Linked DNA regions of Homo sapiens. The protein of the gene in region 2 purifies or fractionates together with the protein of the main gene of each other region. This does not show direct contact. Each region holds a gene or a part of one and is shown on either strand. Other genes may lie near its edges.

Region 1 (7,306 bases), on a different chromosome or scaffold from region 2:
CTCTAATTCATAGATTTCTCTGGTTTCTGGAAGCATCAAATGAATCACCATGCTGCCTGTCAGGGACAGATAAGAGATACAATGAAGGAATAGTTCATTTGCTTTTATTCTTACCTTACAACACACACTGGCTAACTCTAGGAATAAAGCAGTGGTTCTCAAGTGTGGTTCCCAGATTAGCATCACTGTGGACTCCATCCCAGCAAAAATACCACAGAAGTGATGCTATGCCTTTCTCAGTGTACCTACAGGAGGCATATGTCAATATATAACATTGCTGGTGATAGTAACTTTATCAAAGAGACTAATGGTGTCAGGATTCTCTTCGGTGACAATTCTCCATGGGTAACACACTTCTGCACATCTTTTGTGCAAAAACACTGACTGCCTTTTGTTTTGACTATCCAAGAATGTTTGTATCGTGAATATTCTTAACAGAAAGATACTGCCTCCCTCCAGGGCAAAGGGCAGCTTTGCTTACAGCAGCATTTCTCAATTAGGTAATAATGGTAATGTTTAGAGTCATTTTTGATTGTCACAATTGGAGAAGGGAGGATACTGCTAAACATCGTACCGTGCACAAGAGACACCCCTCCCCCACATGCAAAATTACCTGGTCCAAAACGTTAATAGCGACAAAAGTGAGAAACCATCAGAGCAAAAGTAGGCCTGCTTCCTGCCAGTTATAAAAAACCTAGACACCCTCATCTGAGTTCCAGTTTTACAACTGTGTGTGCTGGTGTCATCTGGCCCATGTTGCCCTATGGAATCCAGAGCTCAGGAAACCAGTGCAAAATGGATGCTGGCTACTGCTGTGAGTAATAAACTGTTCTTTGTCTCTAACCCTCTAATAGTCTTGTCTTTTACCAGTGTCCATGAAAACTGGCGGGACAATGTATTAGCTTACAAGCAGAATAAAATCTCAGACTCCTCAGTTCTTGACATACAGTTATGTTTCCCCTTTGTAAATATTATCTTGTTGGGAGGTGCTTTGAAACTATGTACACATTAATACCCAAAGTTGTTAGATCTTTTCAAAATTCTAGTCTTCTGCTCTTGTCCTTTTTTGTGCCTGGAATAACCTCATCCTCATCTCATTTATGCACCACAGCCCCCAAACCTTCCTCTACCACTACTAAGGAATCTCTCCCGCCTCTACTATGTTATCCTGTTGTCCACCACCTTCCTGATCTGTGTGGCTAGTAGATACACACCATGTAGTATATATCTTCCTCCAGGAGGGCATCATCTAGGGTACTTTGGTTTGGTTAGGTGAAAATTCTACATGTGAATAAGACCACCTGGATTATAACTAAAAAAACTTTTGTTACCTTAAACACACTTCAAAAATCTTACCTGGAAATACATTCATCAATTTGATCTCAATCCTTTTGCAACTGAAAACAATTCAAGATTAGCGTAGTACCAACAGTTACCTGTAAAATACGCCAGAATAACTTACCAAAATCCACGCACAGCCAGTCATCAGTGTCCTTCCCTTCTATCTTAACATGAGGGTCACGTTTACATTTCAGGTGTTTGTACTGCAAAAAGCCAGGTGGTTTATTAAAGGGAGAGGGGATGGGGGAAGCCTGTTCTTGCTGAAGGTCTTTTTTTTTTGTTTGTTTGTTTGTTTTTTTTAATCTTTCTTACTCATTTCTCATTGCTATACTTTGCCCTGTGATGAATAACTTAGGGAAACTATTTCTCCCTCTAAATCTTATTCACTTTCACCTCTCTCCTGAATTCTCCTGCCCCAGCCCTTCTGAGAGGGTCACCCCATTCATTCACCAAGGTGCCTCTGAGGCTGAAAAAGCTAAGCTCAGTCAGCATTTGGTACCCACCTACATCCATCACTTGTGTTCATCCCAGCTTTCCTTCACCTTTAGGGGCTGCAGATACTACCTTCTGTTTATAAAGCCAGGTTGTTTCAGTGCCACTGATTTCATCTCATCTGCCTTTATGACATGTTAATGGGACCCCGTCATCCTATAAATGTGCTCAGTTCTTTTGTTAAAACAGATATACTAATATCAAACAAGATGGCAATTAAGTAAAAACTGTTACAAGAGACAAAGGACATCTCATATACATCACCCCAAAATCAAAGGAAATGATAATTAGGGCAGGAAAAAGACAAAATCAATGAAACTAGGATTTGGTTCTTAGAATGACTAAGAAAAAAGACAACTAAAATCTGAAATGAAAGAAGTGACACTACTGATTTTAGAGAAATGGGATTGTAAGAGTATTATGAGCAACTGTACACCAAACAACTGGGTAACCTAGACGAAATAGCAAAATTTCTAGAAACACAATCTACTGACTGAATCATGCAGAAATATAAAGTTTCAATAGACCATAACTAGTATGGGGACTGGATCAGTAATCAAAAATCTCCCAACAAAAGTCCTAGACCAGATGGCTTCCCTGATGAGTTTTACCAAATATTTAAACAAGAATGCAATACTCAAATTCTCCCCAAAAAATTGAAGAACAGGGAACACTTCCTAACTCATTCCATAAGACCAATAACCCTGATGAACATTTGATGCAAAAATCCTCAACAAAAATACTAGCAAACCAAACTCAGCACCATATTAAAAGGATTATAGACCATGACCAAGTGGGATTTATCCCTGGAATGCAAGGTGGTTCAACATATAAAAACGGATCAATGCAATAACACCACATTAACAGAATGAAGAAAAAATCTATATGATAATCTGAACTGACGCAGAAAAAGCATTTAACAAAATTCAATACCCTTTCACAATAAAGCACTCAACAAAGTGGGCATAAAAGGAAATTACCTCAACATAATAAGGGCCATGTGAGAAAAGCACACAGCTAATATATTCAATGGTGAGACTGAAAGCTTTCCTGTAAGATCAGGAACAAGACTATGCCTGCTTTTGCTACTTCTATTCAACACAGTATTGGAAGTTCTAGTCAGAGCAATTCGTCAATAAAAAAAAAAAAGGTACCCAAATTGGAAAGGAGGAAGTAAAATTATCTCTGAAGACAATACAACTTCATATGTAGAAAACCCCAAAGATTCCACAAAAAAAACCCAGTTAGGGCTACTAAACAAATTCAGCACACAAAAATCCATCGTATTTCTATACACTAACAATGAGCAACCTGGAAACAAAGTTTTTAGAATTCCATTTACAATAGCAGAATAATACTTTTTTTTTTTTAATTGAGACGTTCTTGTTTTGAGTTTCGCTCTTGTTGCCCAGGCTGGACTATAATGGCGCAATCGCGGCTCACAGCAACCTCCACCTCCCAAGTTCAAGCGATTCTCCTGCCTCAGCCTCCCAAGTAGCCGGGATTACAGGCATGCGCCACCACGCCCGGCTAATTTTGTATTTTCAGTAGAGACGGGGTTTCTCCATGTTGGTGCGGCTGGTCTTGAACTCCCGATCTCAGGTGATCTGCCTGCCTCGGCCTCCCAAAGTGCTAGGATTACAGACATCAGCCACCGTGAGCAGCCTAGCAGAATAATCTTAACCACAGGAGCAAAAGACTTGTACAATGAAGACTACAAAACACTGCTGAAAGAACTTACAGATGCCAGTAAATGGAAAGATACTTCATATTCATGGATGGGAAGACAATATTGTAAAGATGCCAATACTACCCAATGCAGTCTACAGATTCAGTGCAATCTATATCAAGATCACAATATTTTTTGAAGAAACAGAAAAATCCAACCTAAACTTTATGTGGGGCCAGACACGGTGGCTCACACCTGTAATCCCAGCCCTTTGGGAGGCCAAGGCGGGTGCATCACCTGAGGTTAGGAGTTTAAGACCAGCCTAGCCAAAATGGTGAAACCTCATCTCTACTAAAAATACAAAAAATTAGCTGGGCATGGTGGCGGGCACCTGTAACCTCAGCTACTTGGGAGGCTGAGGCAGGAGAATTGCTTGAATCTGTGAGCCGAGATTGTGCCACTGTACTACAGCCTGGGCAACAAAAGCGAAACTCCATCTCAAAAAAAAAAAAAAAATTATATGGACTCTCAAGGAACCCCAAATAGCCAAAACAATCTTGTAAAAGAACAAAGTTGGAGTCTCATATTTCTTGATTTCAAAACTTAGAACAAAGCTATGGTAAACAAAACAGTCTGAAACTGGCAAAAAGACAGACGCACAGACTGATGAAACAGAATACAGAGCCCAGAAATAAACCCTTGTGCCTATGGTCAAATGATTTTCAACAATGGAGCCAAGACCATTCAATGCACAAAGGACAGTCCTTCCAACAAACGTTGCTGAGGAAATGTCCACATGGAAAACTAACCGCCTACAAAAACTAACTCAAAATGGGTTAAATATCTAAACAGGAGACTTAAAACTATAAAACTCTTAGAAGAAAATAGGGAAAACATGATACTGGTTTGGCAATTATTTATTAGATATAATACCAAAGACACAGGCAACAGAAGAAAAAATAAACTGAACTTCACCAAAATTAAATACTTTCGTGCATCAAAGGACACTCTAAAGAGTAAAAAGGCAACCCACAGAATGGCAGAAAACATCTGCAAATCACATATTTGATAAGGGATTAATATCCAGAATATATAGAGAGCTCCTACAACTCAACAACAAAACAACAAACAACCTGATTTTAAAATGGGCAAAGAGTCTGGGCAATATAGTGAGACCCTGTCTCTATAAAAAATAAATTAGCTGGGCACTGTGGAGTAACTCCTACCATTCTACTTTCTGTCTCTATGAATTTGACTACTCCTACTCCTCTAGTCCTAGCAACTTGGGAGGCTGAGGTGAGAGGATCACTCGAGCCCAGAAGTTCCAGGCTGCAGTGAGCTATGACCACACCACTGCACTGAAGCCTGGGCAACAAAGTGAGACACTGTCTCTTTAAAACAAACAAAAAAGCAAAGGACTTTTCTTCAAAGAATATATACAAATGGCCAATAAGCAAAAGAAAATATGCTCAACATCACTAATCCTTAGGGAAATACAAATAAAAACCACAATGAGATATCACGTCATGCCCATTAGGATGGCTATTACCAAAATGAGAAAATAAGTTGTTGATGAGGATGTGAAGACTGGAAACTCTGCACTGCTAGAGAAATGTAAAGTGGTGTAGCCACTATGAAAGAATACAGGAGCTCCTCAAAAAATTAAAAACATTCAGCTTTGTGCTAGGCTGGTGAACAGAAAAAAAATTAAAAACAGAATCACTATATGATCCAGCAATCCCATTTCTTTGCACATACCCCAAAGCATTAAAAGCAAGGACATAAACAATTTTTTTTTTTTTTGAGACTGAGTTTCGCTCTTGTTGCCCAGGCTGGAGAGCAGTGGCACAATCTCGGCTCACTGCAACCTCCACCTCCCAGGTTCAAGCGATTCTCGTGCCTCAGCCTCCCAAGTAGCTGGGATTACAGGAACCCTCCACCACACCCAGCTAATTATTGTATTTTTAATAGAGACAGGGTTTCACCATTTTGGCCAGGCTGGTCTTGAACTCCTAACCTCAGGTGAACTACCCGCCTTGGCCTCCCAAAGTGCTGGGATTACAAGTGTGAACCCAGCCTTTTTTTTTTTTTTTTTTCTTTTGAGACAGCGTCTTGCTCTGTCACCCAGGGTGGAGTGCAGTAGTACAATCTTGGCTCACTGCAGCCTCAAGCTCCTGGGCTCAAGCAATCCTCCACCTCAGCATTCCAAGTAGCTGGGACTACAGGCACACACCACCAAGCCCAGCCAATTTTTTATTTTATTTTTTGTCTTTTTTGTAGAGATGGAGTTTCACCATGTTGCCCAGGCTGGTTTCAAACTTCTGAGCTCAAGCAATCCGCCCACCTTGGCCTCTCAAAATGCTGGGATTACAGGCATGAGCCACTGCGCCCAGCCTCATGAACAGTATTTCTATACTCATATTTATACCAGCATTATTCACAATAGCCAAAAGGTGGAAGCAATCTAAGTGTCCATCAATGAATAAGGGGATAAACAAAATGTGGTATATACGTAAGATAGAGTATTATTCAGCCTTAAGAAAGAAGGAAATTCTGGCACATGCTACTACATGGATGAACCTTGAAGACATTATGCTAAGTCAGATAAGTCGGTCACAAATCTATGATTCTACTTTTATGAGATACTGAAAAGTAGTCAAATTCATAGAGACAGGCAGTAGAATGGTAGCTGCCTACGGAAGGAGAAATGGGGAGTTATTGTTTAATGAGTTCAGAGTTTCGTTTTTGCAAAATGAAAAAATTTCTGGAGACGGATGGTGGTAATGATTGTAAGTCAATGTGAAGGTACTTAAAGCTACTGAACAACACAGTTTAAAATTGTTAAATGGGCTGGGCACAGTGGCTCATGCCTGTAATCCCAGCACTTTGGGAGGCCGAGGTGGTCAGGAGTTTGAGACCAGCCTGACCAACATGGTGAAACCCCATCTCTACTAAAAATAGAAAAATCAGCCAAGCGTGGTGGTGGGTGCCTATAATCCCACCTACTCAGGAGGCTTAGGCCGGAGAATCACTTGAACTCGGGAGGCGGAGACTGCAGTGAGCTGAGATCGAGCCACTGCACTCCAGCCTGGGCGACAGAGCGAGACTCTTGTCTCCAAAAAAAAGATTAAACGGTAGGTTTTACGTTATATATATTTTACCACAAACAACAAAACTTTCTTGCCTTTGCATTTCTCTCATCTAAAATCTTTGTAAAGGCAATTTCTATTTCTTTATTCTTTCACAGAAACTTCTCTGTAAAACCTCCCATTCTTTTTACATCCGCAAGTCCAATGGTCACTAAGTCTTCTGACTCCATCCCACTATTACATCTGATAGAGACCCTGGTATGCTGTCTTTGTATATCTCTTCTTTATGCTTTCCTAGTTCTCTCCCTATCTCTCCAATTACCCTGTTTTTGGCATCTTCTTCTGCTCTGTCATGTACCAGGGTTTTGTGTATAGGCCCCACCTTTTTATTTTACAACCTTTCTCTATACAATTTTGGCTACTCTTTTGGTCTTAACTGCCTCCTCTATGACCAATTCTCAACAGACTAAGACTAAGAAAGGTATCATGGCCCCGTGGAATGGTACCAGAGTCAGCTAGAGGCTTCCAAGTACTTTCTTCCTCATTCTGATTCATATTCAGTGCAACTGGAAAACAATCCCCCTTTCTTTCCTCAACTAGACCTGTAAGGGCAAGGACTACATCTTTTTTGTTCTTACCTTCCCAATACCCCGTACAGTGCTTGGGAACACTGGACATGCTCAAATCTTTGAATGAAACTCCAGGCCAGCACTGT
Region 2 (2,810 bases):
ACAATAGAGTCCCATCTCCAACGGTCTGTCTGTACTCCATTGTGTTTCTTAAATGCAAACCAAACAGATCAAGCAGATGAACACTCTATTATTTTTTAGGTCTCAGTCCCAACCCTCAGTGTGCACCACTTGGATAGATTGCGTGGGACCAGAAGGAGCGCTGGACTAGGAGTCCTTGGAGGCCCCCTCTCCTTACCCCCAGGCCTCATTTGGGTTCCAGTAAACTTTCAAAGGGTTTGGAGACGATCAAGGGAGGGAACTTCTTTCCAAGTGGAAGAAAGCCTTGGCCGTGGCCCCACCTCAACTTCTGAAGAGTATGGTCGAAGATAAAGTTATAATCCCAGAGAAACTGGAGCTGAATCAGCTTTTTCTGGCTGGACCAGTATGTGGCTGTTCTGCTTGTGGGTAGATGCAGGGTATGGGTGCTGGAGAGCCTGAGATCCCTTTTGTCAACAACAGACACTTTATCTTACCTGCCCTCCCATCTGCCACCTGTATACACACATGGAGGGCTCCCTTTGGTGGGTTTACAGTGATCCTTCCCCCGGAGTTCTGAGTTGGAGAAAGATTTAACAGGTATGCCACTTCATTCACAACACAGCACTTTATTATGGAATATGTGCAACTTGGTGTAAGGATTTCTGAAATTCATACCATTTACAGGTATTTAATGGGTTATAAATTTTCAATGTCAGAATTATACTTAAGTCATGTTAGTAATGGTCATTCCTTCTGGCCCAATGGATTTAAATCTTCTTCTGCCCAGTTTCCTCTTCAATCAGACTTTCCTGAAAAATATATAACAAATATATCAAGACTGACTTTACCAGCTGAATTTCATTACATTTTGACATTTTAATTTCTAAAATATCAGTCTGGAAGGAATTGGTCTGTTTGATTTTGTGCTCTAGTTAGTGCTAGGGAGACATGATAAATTGGGTTTGTTTTTCTGGTTTTTTTTTTTTTTGAGACAGAACCTCACTCTGTCACCCAGGCTGGAGTGCAGTAGTATGATCTCAGCTCATGGCAACCTCCACCTTCCAGGTTCAAATGATTCTCGTGCCTCAGCCTCTCTAGTAGTTGGGATTGCAGGCATGCATCACCGCATCTGGCTAATTTTTATAGTTTTAGTAGAGACAGGGTGTCACCATGTTGGCCAGGCTGGTCTTGAACTCCTGGCCTCAAGTGATCCACTTACCTCGGCTTCCCAAAATGCTAGGATTACAGGCATGAGCCACTGTGCCTGGCCGATTGGGTCTTTTTAAGCACTTAATATACATAAAATCTACATTAATAGTTTAAGGATGAGTTGTGAGGAAGGAAGTGAAAAAAAAGTCTGGTCAATTACTTTGCTATTAAACCAGCCTTTGCTTCAATTTCTTCATAATGTCATGTTTGACAAATTTCACTGCTTGCCATTTTTGTAATGCAGTAAGCAAGATTAGAAAAAGAAAGGAAATAGGCTGGGCGTGGTGGCTCATGCCTGTAATCCCAGCACTTTGGGAGGCCGAGGTGGGCGGATCACAAGGTTAAGGGATTGAGACCATCCTGGCCAACATGGTGAAACCCCATCTCTACTAAAAATACAAAAATTAGTCCAGTGTGGTGGCTCATGCCTGTAATCTCAGCTACTCGGGAGGCTGAGTCAGGAGAATCGCTTGAACCCAGGAGATGGAGGTTGCATTGAGCCGAGATTGCGCCACTGCACTCCAAAAAAAACGAAAAAGGAAATAACGACGTCTGCCCACTTTTTTCTTTGTTCTGTGGGTATATTAAGTTGAAGTCACTGTAGACAATTAAAATTACAGCTTATTTTTATATATGATTTATTTGGGCTTTCCCAGCTCCTAGGCATAACTGATCATTAACTGTAATGCCTTCTGATTGCTGCAGATAAGTGGACAATAGAGATCAGAGAATATCAACATTGAATCCAAGATTCAACTTAAGTCAGGCACAGTGGCTTGCACCTTTAATCCCAGCACTTTGGGAGGATCTTGAGGCTGGGAGTTTGAGACCAGCCTGGGCAACATAGACCCTGTCTCTACAAAAAATTAAAAAATAAAATCAGCTGGGTGTGGTGGCAAGTGCTTATAGTCCCAGCTACTAGAGAGGCTAATCTAGTCTCCAGAATTGCTTGAGCCTGGGAGGTTGAGGCTGTGGTGAGCATTGATTGCACCATTGCACTCTAGCCCGGGGAACAGAGCAAGATCCTGTCTCAACAAATAATTTTTTTAAAAGATTCAATTTATACATTCAATTCTCTTTATACTTTTTCATCAAAAACCTAATATGATTAGTGTATTTCCATTTTGGGGGGCGGAATTTGGAGGTGATTATTGTCCTATCAGGAAACTGGAAATCAAGTCCATCACTCTCTAAATTATAAATTTAGTAGTTTGGCATTTTTCATTCCAAAGAAGAGAAAAAAAAACCCATCTACAGCAGTGTTTCTCATGTCTCTATTCCCCAAGGTTCTGGAAAACCATGTAAGATAAAGCACAGTTGCAGGATCAGGTGGAGGGCTGTGGAGTAGCCTGGAGTGGAGTAGTCTAGGGGGTTTGGTGATTTTACTTGAAGAAATGAAATGCAGCAGTGGGAAGAAATTTGTTTTGTTAGTTATCCCAAAAGCTAGAACCAGGATTAAGAGATAAAAGTTACAGAGAGATTTCAATTCAACTTCAGAAAAAACAAACAAACAAAAAAACGTTTCAGCCCCTAGTGCTGTCTAACCACCAACTGGGATTGTCATGAAACACGGTCCTACCACAGGAGGTAACAGAGGAGTCAGGAATGTAAGCCCCACAGTA

What was found.
Region 1: the proteins of GNRH1 (region 2) and MALSU1 purify together in Homo sapiens (affinity purification with mass spectrometry; 2 studies listed by BioGRID and IntAct, with this or other methods). This does not show direct contact.

What each region holds. Positions count from the first base shown.
Region 1 is NC_000007.14:23,302,106-23,309,411, reverse strand, and holds part of MALSU1 (mitochondrial assembly of ribosomal large subunit protein 1), read right to left. Parts: intron 1,545-7,306; coding exon 1,463-1,544; intron 57-1,462; coding exon 1-56. UniProt on the Homo sapiens protein: Required for normal mitochondrial ribosome function and mitochondrial translation. May play a role in ribosome biogenesis by preventing premature association of the 28S and 39S ribosomal subunits.
Region 2 is NC_000008.11:25,418,673-25,421,482, forward strand, and holds the end of GNRH1 (progonadoliberin-1 isoform 2 preproprotein), read right to left. Parts: intron 789-2,810; coding exon 747-788; 3' UTR 586-746; downstream 1-585. UniProt on the Homo sapiens protein: Stimulates the secretion of gonadotropins; it stimulates the secretion of both luteinizing and follicle-stimulating hormones.